Linked DNA regions of Homo sapiens. The protein of the gene in region 2 purifies or fractionates together with the protein of the main gene of each other region. This does not show direct contact. Each region holds a gene or a part of one and is shown on either strand. Other genes may lie near its edges.

What was found.
Region 1: the proteins of LSM14B (region 2) and CLPX purify together in Homo sapiens (affinity purification with mass spectrometry; one large-scale study listed by BioGRID and IntAct). This does not show direct contact.
Region 3: the proteins of LSM14B (region 2) and CILK1 purify together in Homo sapiens (affinity purification with mass spectrometry; 3 studies listed by BioGRID and IntAct, with this or other methods). This does not show direct contact.

What each region holds. Positions count from the first base shown.
Region 1 is NC_000015.10:65,161,227-65,164,880, reverse strand, and holds part of CLPX (ATP-dependent clpX-like chaperone, mitochondrial precursor), read left to right. Parts: intron 1-692; coding exon 693-852; intron 853-2,235; coding exon 2,236-2,277; intron 2,278-3,654. UniProt on the Homo sapiens protein: ATP-dependent chaperone that functions as an unfoldase.
Region 2 is NC_000020.11:62,132,364-62,135,917, forward strand, and holds the end of LSM14B (protein LSM14 homolog B), read left to right. Parts: exon of another isoform or gene 1-825; intron 826-926; coding exon 927-1,098; 3' UTR 1,099-1,112; intron 1,113-1,799; 3' UTR 1,800-3,011; downstream 3,012-3,554. UniProt on the Homo sapiens protein: mRNA-binding protein essential for female fertility, oocyte meiotic maturation and the assembly of MARDO (mitochondria-associated ribonucleoprotein domain), a membraneless compartment that stores maternal mRNAs in oocytes.
Region 3 is NC_000006.12:53,051,790-53,055,443, reverse strand, and holds part of CILK1 (serine/threonine-protein kinase ICK), read left to right. Parts: intron 1-3,654.

The DNA.
Region 1 (3,654 bases), on a different chromosome or scaffold from region 2:
ACTTTGGGAAGCCAAGGCAGGAAGATTGCTTGAGCCCCAGGAGTTCAAGACCAGCCTTGGCGACACAGTGAGACCCTGTATCAAAAAAAGAAAAAAATATATTTTTAGAAAATAAAAAAAAATAAGAATACAGTTTTTAGAGTCTCAGATAAATGAGTAGCTTTAAAGTTAATGTCTGAGAAAAAATTAAATTTACTAAAACACATAGATACTGATAGTATAATGGCTTTTGATTATGTAATGCCTGTTTCTGAAAAGAGTAGTTTTATAATGTTATCTTTGTGAAGAATGTTATTCATTTGATTGACAGGTATGGATTTATTTTAATGATTTACATTAATGTTGATACTTTTAGACCATGGTGGCATGTGTATGTATTCTAAGTTACTTTAAATTTAATTTGTTATCAAAAAATAAAGATTGATAGCATTGTTTATAGAATAGAAATTAGCACAACACTAGTAGAGTACAGTGATACTTTGTTAAGCTAGAGAACAAATGAATTGTGTTTTTGTTCATTTAGTGTTCAGGGCCTCTGAATCATTGCTATATAATGTATTGTCATTTTGTTTTTAATGAGAGTCTTTGTTCAGATTTAAAACTGTAAGCAAATATGCTTAGTAAATAACTTTTTAATGTGTGTGCTCTTATAATAGCTCATATTAAATTATTCATACCTAATCATTTTTCAGATTTATAACTACCTCGACAAGTATGTTGTTGGCCAGTCATTTGCTAAGAAGGTGCTTTCAGTTGCTGTGTACAATCATTATAAGAGAATATATAATAATATCCCAGCTAATCTGAGACAGCAAGCAGAGGTTGAGAAGCAGACATCATTAACACCAAGAGGTAGCGTTTTTGATAATTGACCTAAATAGAGATTGCTATGCTTAAAAGTAATCTTTATTTGTAACTCCTCACTTTCTTCTTAAAATGTTTTTTATATAGTGTGGCATTTTTCAAAGTGCAGGTTATTCCCCATTAGTGTGTTATGAAATCATTTGCCAACAGCATTTTTTAAAAATTTGATAGATATGAATAGAAAATAACAGAATACATTAACTTACAGTTAAGGTAAATATTATTTCTTAGGCCTGGCATGGTGGCTTATGCCGGTAATCCCAGCACGTTTGGAGGCCGAGGCGGGGGGATCACTTGAGGTCAGGAGTTCGAGACCTGCCTGGCCAGCATGGGAAACTCCGTCTCTACTAAAAATACAAAAATTAGCCAGGTGGGGTGGCACATGGCTGTAGTCATTATACAGTATACTGTATAATCTCAATTTACTATGGACAATAATGTATATTAATAGAATGATTTATTAAAAACAATTATGCATAGAGTAAATATGAATATTTAATTTTTTGTTTTGTTGGCCAGACAGCCCCAATTTCTGATTTAGGCCTATATTCCATCATTTTAGATTCTTTTAGTTATCACTGTACAGTGTGAAGGAGTTCTGCTAAGTACTTAAATTTATAAGTCTACATTATCTTTGATTGCCTTTAGTAGCAACTAAATGTATAATTTATTTCAATGAAGACACTTGTTCACTTGCTGAACTTACATCACATAACTGCAAAATAGGTATGTGATGGTATCAGTTATTTTTAGAAAGTATAAGTCATAACTAACGGATGACTTGGAACCTTTTTCTTTTTTTCAAGACAAGGTCTCTCTCTGTCACCCAGGCTGGATTGCGACTCACTGCAGCCTCAACTTCCCAGGCTCCAGTGATCCTCCCACCTCAGTCTCCCAAGCAATCCATCTGCCTCAGCCTCCCAAAGTGCTGGGATTAATAGGCGTGAACTCTTGCGCCTGGCCTGAAATCTTCATTTTTATAAGGTCCAAATAGCACTGATAGTTATGGAGCAAAACTTTTTTGTTTTCCTCGGTAATAAATAGATATTTAAGCTATTCTAAGTGCTGGAGGAGCAAATGGTTATAATATTTATAGCATGAGGGGCTTAAACTCTTATTAAAGACTTATGTTATTATACCCTTACAATAGATATCAATTATATATTTGACAAATGTGAATATTAGCAACTGGACAGCGGTCTTTATGCATGGTTTTGTTTTAATATAGAAAAGATATAGCATATATGAAAAGCTGAAAAATGTTAATGAACAAATCCTTTAAATATATTTGAAAGAGGACAGGAGGTGGGATACTCATTGTTTGTTCCCCCAAGGTAAACAAATATGTAATATTTTCATCCTCTTTCTTAGAGTTAGAAATAAGAAGACGGGAGGATGAGTACAGATTTACAAGTAAGTGACTTCAGGTCCTCCTCTGTAATCATTCTTCCTTTTGACATTTATTTCAGTGAAGTGTTTCAGCAGTAACAGTGATAGACATGTATGTATTTGCTTGTGTATTACCAAGAAAGATACGTATTATCTAAATGTGTTTATCCTACATGGTATATATAACTTTGGAATAGTTTTTCATAGCTAATTTGTGTCGTTTCCATATGTTGGGTTATTTTTTATTTTTTCTATCAAACTACAATTAGAGTTGGCCTGCTTCTTGTGGGTCACAGGAATTTGGGGGAGGCAGATTATTTTCTAGCTACTCTTTGCCAGAAAGCACACTGTTTTTTGGTTTTTTTTGTATTTATGAAACTTACAGTCTTACAAATTATGAGTAAGTCTTAATTCACTGTTTCCAGCCCCAGATTGCCCCTACAAGCATCAGATGGTCCGATGGAGGGTGTGGAAGGACTTGATAGACCAAGGAGAGTGGCCTTTCTGTTGTGTTCCACCTATTCCTTTGGAGGTGGATATAGTTAGTTGCTGCATTGAGGGTGGAGGTTCCAGGGGTGTCATAGAAAGATTCACATGGCCTTTTGTTTTAGTAATTGAAATAAAGAAAATTAGCTAAGTTTGATGTTTTTACATTTGCCTTTGAACCAAGTAGTATTATATATCCACTATTTGAAGTGTACTATATATAGGATGAGCCATGAGAATATAACTTGTGTACCAACTTGGGCATGACATTTATCACATGTAATAAAATTACATTATCCCCAGTTATTTTTAAATTTATAGAAATACTGATTATACCATGCGTGGTAAAATTAAGAAATACAGTAAGTGCAATAGAATTAGATTGTATATAAGAATGTAAAATCTAAATAATAACCTTTAGGTATATATGTAATTTATTTCATAATAAAAAAATATATTCAGATATGCAGTCAATACCATACTCATAAATTGTGTTGACAGCTAGTTAACCTATACTAAATTAGTAAAGAAAGTCTGTAGTGCATATTTTGAAAGACATGTCATGTAATATATGTAGTGATTTAATGTTATTTAAATGTTAACAAGTAACAGTATTTAAGAACTTATGTAAAAGATTGACTTAGAAACAAATATTTCAAAAGCTTAAATTTATTGTCATGTGCAGTTTTGTTGTGTTTTACATGGGATTTTAAGTTCTAAAGTTAGGTTGTTAACTAACACTGGCTGGGGGTGTTAGACCCTAACACTGGTCTAGGGTTTTAGACCAAAATCATGTACAATAAGATTAATTCTTATAAGTCCCTTTGGAAGTCAAATTTTAGAGACCAACATACAGCTTTTAGGAGGACTGACACAATTGGCTTTTTTTCTCCATCTTTGGAATATAATGTTGTT
Region 2 (3,554 bases):
GAAGCCATCAGAGGGTTTTGTGCTGAAGCGTGGTGCGGTCTGATGTTTTACGGCGTCCTTGGTGAGAGTGGTTGGACGGTGGGCAAGTGTGGCTGCTGACTGGCCAGTTAGGGGCCAGTGCTGCAGCACAGGTGGCTTGGAACCAGGCAGTGGTGGTGACAGAGGGAAGGAGTAGAGTCTAAATGTGTCTTGAAGGTGGCGCTAACAGAATTGGCCAACATGACAAGAGAAGAGTCCAGAATGACTCCTAAGTCTTTTGGCCTGGGCGGCTGATGGGTGGAGTTGCTGTTTCTTTGAACACGGAAGTCTGTGGGAGCAGCAGGTTTCCGGCTGAAGAGGAGCTCAGGGTGGGTGTGCTGCTGGAGCTGTTGTCTGCGTCGGTAGGAGTGCTGGGTGGGAGTGCTGGGTGCACAGTTGGATGTGGGAGATAGTCTCCCACCAGCAGCTTGTTTGGGTGGCATGAGTGTCCATGCTGTATCCCTGTCTTTCAAACTCCCAAAGCAGAAGCATCACATTCCAGGGAACTTGTTCCATCTATCCTAGCCTCCTCCTTGTCTAGGAGGGTCCACTTCATGGTCCGGTCTCAGGTCTCCTGGGCCCCTGGGCCTCCCCAGGGCTCCTCTCTGTGCCCAGCGAGCAACAGCGGCTGCCTTGGTAGCCAACTAGTATCACTGCTTGCCTGTGGTGCCAGAGATGGTAGAGATGGATCCCGATCCCCGGCCCACTGTGGAGACAGTCCTGGTTGGAAACGTGGCAGGGAGCACCTGCAGTGCCGGAGCTGGGCTCCAGAGCTGACGGGGCCGCCCCTTCCCTGTAGTGGCCCTGGTGAGTCTGTCCCTCCTTCCCTGGGCCGCTCTGAGGACGAGGCCTGGCCAGAAGCCTGGGAGTCAGTGCCTGCTACAATCAGCATTTCCTCTGTGGTTTAGCTCCAGGCGGACGACGTGGGCCGAAGAGAGGAAGCTCAACACAGAGACCTTTGGGGTGTCAGGGAGGTTTCTTCGTGGCCGCAGTTCTCGGGGCGGATTCCGAGGAGGCAGGGGCAATGGGACCACCCGTCGCAACCCCACTTCCCACAGGGCCGGGACTGGCAGGGTGTGAGGGTGCAGCCAAAGGTGAGTGGATGAACCTTCTGGACGCTTTGGTGGGAGGGTGTAGGGTCAGGCACACCTGGAGAGCTTAGGAAGGTGGGGAGCAGGCTCGGTTTCCCAGGAAGAAGAGAGGCCCAGAGGTGTCAAAGCCAAACCGAGGGCCTCGACCCTATGAGTCACCCGGGAGGCTCTTGGCCAACTTCAACCTGCATCTGTGGGGGTAGGATCCAGGCCCCAGCATCCTCCAAGTGAGATTGCAGGTATGGGAGGTGAGGTGGTGCGGGAGTCGCGTGGGCTGGGGGCTCACCACCCAGGTGAAGCCAGCAAGTGAGACCTTGCTCCAAAGCCAGTGTCTTGGCCCAACCCGGCCCTAAGTGAATCAGAGGCTTCATTTTTAACCAGGTCCCAGTGGATTTGTGGGCACCTTAGGGTTTGGGCGGAGCGTCCCACATGGGGTGCCTGGTGCCAACCCCACCCAGCGCCTCGGGACAGCCAGGTGGGCCCTGGAAAGACTAGCCCTCCTGCCACTAGCTGCGTCCCTGTCCCCAGTGTATTGTACAAGTAGGATTCTCAGAGTGGGTTGTGAGAAGAATGGGGGTAGCCAGTCTGACTCTGGGGGCAGGAGGGAGGCTGAGTGGCTCCTGCTCGCCAGCAGGGGCAACAGTGCTAGCTTATCCCAGCAGATGCTTGACTTCCTGTCATCTCTTGCAGGCTCCTACTGAAGTGGCGCATAACTGACGCTGTGTGTGTCAGGACGCGAGGAAAACGCTGCACTTACAGGGAGAGGTGGTCACTTTGTTTACGGAGTTTGGAAGAGACCCATACTGCTACTTGTGTTTTGGACTTAACTGAACTTGGACATGGTCTGAGTTAGAACCACTTGTTTTGGGGAAGTATTCATGGGTAACCTCTTTGAGGTCTCTTTATCTGTGTTTCCTTTTTAGTTGCGCATAGCCTAATTCTAAGGTTTTGGTATTTTGCAAAAAGGTTTCTATAGTGAAAGCTGAATCCTTACTTTGTGACTTTTTTTTTTTTTTTTAATGACAAGCTTTGACTTTTAAAAGTGGAACCAAATCTGTTGGCAGAGGTGGCAGCCAAGTACATCTCTGTAACCCAGCTGGCCCCTGGTGCTGTTGGCCTGGCACCCCACTGCCAAGGGTGGGGTCTCAGGAGTCAGGCAGGGCCAGCACAGGGTGGCGTGGGGGGCAGGGGTGGGTGGGTGGAGGGCACGGAAGGGGTTTTCCCATGGATCATGTTGTATAAGTGAACCAGACCACCCTGATGGCATCCACAGTGATGTCAAGGTTGGGGCTGGCCAGGGGTGGGTGGACTAGAAGCATTTGGGAGTAGTGGCCAGGGGCCCTGGACGCTAGCCACGGAGCTGCTGCACAGAGCCTGGTGTCCACAAGCTTCCAGGTTGGGGTTGGAGCCTGGGATGAGCCCCGGCAGCGCCTTGGCCCTTCTGTGGTCCCTGCCAGCCTCTGACCTGGGCCGGTCAGTCATTGCTGGACTCTGGCCACACACTGGCGTTCTCATCCACTTGGAAACAAGCCAGTCTTTTCTGCAAGGTCAGTTGACCAAGAGCATATTTCCCCTCTGTTGTACATCGTTGTTTTGTGTTTGTGTTGTAACAGTGGGTGGAGGGAGGGTGGGGTCTACATTTGTTGCATGAGTCGATGGGTCAGAACTTTAGTATACGCATGCGTCCTCTGAGTGACAGGGCATTTTGTCGAAAATAAGCACCTTGGTAACTAAACCCCTCTAATAGCTATAAAGGCTTTAGTTCTGTATTGATTAAGTTACTGTAAAAGCTTGGGTTTATTTTTGTAGGACTTAATGGCTAAGAATTAGAACATAGCAAGGGGGCTCCTCTGTTGGAGTAATGTAAATTGTAATTATAAATAAACATGCAAACCTTTAAAATTTTCTTTTCTGATGCTCTAAGAATCCTGTTGACTCTTCTGCCCAAGTCACCTCTGCATCATGTCCAGGTCTGGAGCACACACTTAGGCTGGTGGAATTTGGGGAGACTTGGGCCCCATCAGGTGATGGAACGAGGTGGCTGACCCAATTGGTCGGGTGAAGTGCGGCCAGCAGACCCGGGTTCTCCCTGTGGGCCACCCTTCTGGGATGAATGGCTCTGCTCTCAGAAACTGGATACAAAGTTCTTTTAAAAACCCAGCTCACAGATAACACCTGTATCATAAGCAGTGGCCCCTTTGCCACCTTCCTGCTGCCTCCAAGCTCCCCAGCTCAGGAGCGTTCAGGTTCTCAGGCACCGTAGAGCATGTTACACAGCCATGAGCAAGCTGCACCCTGGACCCACGCAGAAAAACAAAGACATGGCTGGTTCTAGGCTCAGAGCATCCCATTTTAGTCTAATGGGTTTCCAGGTGACCTTAAAAGTGGCCCTCAGAGAGGACGAGGAGACACACCAGCTGCATGAGTTCTCCTTTCATTACCTGC
Region 3 (3,654 bases), on a different chromosome or scaffold from region 2:
GAAAAAAAGCAGTAGTCCAAGAGGCAAAATGCTTAAAAGGTTTGCTTGCTAAAATGTACAGAGGCAGAAGAATTAGGTCCAGGAGAAAAACATAAACCCGGATATACTATTTCTAGTACCTTTTTAAAAGAAATTAACAGTATTCACTGACTTTTGTAAAGTTAGGACACATTCAAACCTAGAATACGAAGTCTAATTATAAACCTGTAAAGGTAAAATGGAACTCAGAATTACCATGAGAAGGGTCATCTAATGATTTTGCATATAATCCACTTTTCCTAGGAGGATAAATGAAAGTAACAGAATCTTTTCAATGTAAGATAATTAATGCAAAGGGAGACAAGCTCCTTCTAAGGAACTGAATGGTGTCAGTGGGCCTGGTAAACCACAACTCCCAGAGAACCCCAAGTTTGCTGTAACTTTTTGTCTCCTGTCTTAGAAAATGTGTAATGATGGCATTAATTCATTGATTAAGGTTTCAAAATAAAGAATGAACTACAATTTTCCCTGCCCCTCGCCTCCATTTTTTAGGCTGTGAATGAGCAAGGCACCTGATGTGAGCTGCTGGCCATGAGCAAATGTTCTTTGCCTCCACCGAGGATTGACGCTGAGGGGAGGGAATTGGGGCAAATCACAGGAAGCTTTTCCCCAATGTCACCTAGCCAGGAACATCATAACATTGACTTCAAAGGTTTGCTGGAACTCTTTGAAAGAGAGATAAAGCTGTCTTTCTTTGGTAGTTGAGTACAGCCTTACCCAAAGGCCAAAGGCCTGATCTGACCGCATGGAGGGGGACTTTCTGTGATCCTCTGAGACTCAGTCATCTTGGCATTGTTGTGGGAGGGCCCAGGCTGCCTGCCTGCCCCAGCTATTCTGTGGTATTCACTGTTCTTCCACTTCAGAACTTCAGAACTTTTAGTTGGGCCCAACAGTTTATCTTTGTTTTGTGTATGACAAAATAGAAGCACTGAGAATTTTGAGGTACTTAGCCAAGGTGGTACAGAAAATAATAGCAAAGACTAAAACTCACATTTGGGCCCTTCAAACAATCTTTGAGGACTTGCTACTGCAAGTGGAGTGAGAAGACAAAGATGAAGCAGTCTTGGAGAGTGTCGAGGCTGAAGCAGAGGGTACACCTGCAGGTCATTGCCACGGGGAAGGGGCTGGCAGTGAGGTGAGGACAAGGCACTATGGCATCAAGGGAGAGGACCATTCTCGGGTCTATATGTGTAGGTTGGGGCAGGAGGCTTGGAAGAGGTGACATGTGAGCTCGAAAGAGAAGGAATCGATGTTTAATGTTTACTGGGGCCTGGCTGAGGCACTGGGGCACTTGTGCATCTCTTGAAAGAAAGGTGTGTAGCATACAGGGTCCTTCGGTGGCACTGTCTTCTCCGCTAACCTTTGTTCATGTGATGCAAAAAGCAGAAACATTTATCCTTTTTTTTTTCTTAGACAAATGCTAGCTCAATTCCTGATACAGAGTCACAGAATCACACAGCTTTAGAGGAAGAAACCACCTTAGAGCAAGTCCCATGCCCTAATTCCACCAAAAGTAAACTCAAGGACCAAGAGATGCCCCGAGGCACAGCAGATCAGTGCTGAGTGGAAACTGGAACCAGTCCCTCACTTTGCCTCCACTGTGGGCATGTTGGTGCTGCCAATGGCTCCAGAGGATTCGCTGATATTTGATTGCAGAATGAAGACAATTAGAACATAGCCATATCATTCATTTTCATATTTGGGCTTTGAGATACAAAGTACTACTTCTGTTCCTGTCATTTTCAGATCCTCCAAAGATTTCATGATCTTTTGAAAGCTTTCCCTTAAGTTTGGTACAGTCAGCCTGGGTTCCTGTCTCATTTCTGCCACATTAGTCGTATAATCTAGACATGTAACTTGTGTCTCAGTTTCCTTCTCTGTAAAATAGGGATAATTGTAATAGTACCTGCCTGGTAGAATTATGAGGGTTAAATGTACTAATATATGCATAAGCACTTATAATAGTACTATGCACATACTAAGTACTAAAATTATCATGTTTTGGGCATATTTGATATATGAGGGTGCTAAGTGTAGATTCGTTGTAGTGAATGATTTATCCAAGTTAATTCTTGGAGTCAAAGCAGAATTTAGAAATACTGCGAGTTAGAAATACATGCTAATTCTCAAGGTAATGGACAGGCTGCTACATTCCATTCACTTCTCAAGCAGTGTTAACTATCTGTACCAGAAGCTGAATTTAAATGCTGTCAGGGCAGAGGAGGAAAATAAAAGACTCAAGGAAGCTGGGTGTGTGCTTGTCAAACAGTAAGAAATTGCTCTTCTCTTCTAAAAAAGAACAATTTTTCTTCTCTTCCAATTTTTCTTTAAGTATAAGGTTTTTTTTTTTTTCAGGCTTTTACTTTGTCACTTTTGTTATAGGCATAGGAACAGAGAAATATTTTTCATCCAGTAAAACAAGTGGCTATGAAGGCACACAAAAAAATGACAGCTAAAAAAAAAAAATGGCAAGTGGCAACAGGCAAAAAATGGGGACTGTGGTGAGCTGCAGAGCACACGCCCAGCCTGAAGAGGTACGGACATTTCTTCCACTTCTTATTACCGTGAAGGGCTAAGGACCCCAGGTGGTTAGACCTTCAGTGTTTCCAGAGAAGCTCCAAATAGGGATTTATATAGGAAATTCCCTATTTTTTATTTATTGATTTTTTTTTTTTTGAGACAGAATCTCACTCTGTCCCAGGGTGGAGTACAGTGGTGCGATCTCTGCTCACTGCAACCTCCGCCTCCTGGGTTCAAGCAATTCTCCTGCCTCAGCCTTCTGAGTAACTGGGATTACAGGCATACACCACCACGCCTGGTTAATTTTTGTATTTTTAGTAGAGACAGGGTTTCACCATGTTGGCCAGGCTGATCTCGAACTCCTGACCTTGTGATCTGCTGCCCTTGGCCTCCCAAAGTGTTGGGATTACAGGTGTGAGCCACTGTGCCCTGCCGAAATTCCCTATTTTTAAATCTGGGATTCAGCCCCCAGAGTGCCAGTGTGCCATCTCTGGTCTACACAGCATGGAATCTCCATATGCTAATGTCATATACTCAGAGATTTCAGGCTAGAATTGTCAAGTCTTGTTCACTATGCAAAGTTAGAAGTATGCTTGGATAAAGAAAATGTACATATACACCATGGAATACTTTGCCGCTATAAAATGGTATGAGATCATGTCCTTTGCAGGGACATGGATGAAGCTGGAAGCCATCATCCTCAGCAAACTAACACAGGAACAGAAAACCAAACACTGCATGTTCTCACTCATAAGCAGGAGTTGAACAATGAGAATACATGGACACAGGGAGGGGAACAACACACACCAGGGCCTGTTGTGGGGTAGGTGGGACGAGGGGAGGGAACTTACAGGACGGGTCAATAGGTGCAGCAAACCTCCATGGCATACGTATACCTATGTAACAAACCTGCACATTCTGCACATGAATTCCGGAACTTAAAGTAAAATAAAAGAGATAAGTACATTCTATATTTTAAAACAGAATGTCCTTGTTCGCTGGGTAAGTAAGCACAGATTTCTGATTTCATTTCTAAAACACCCAACTTTGAATGAATAACACTGCTGCTGTGTAATTTAGATGATTGTATAAGTC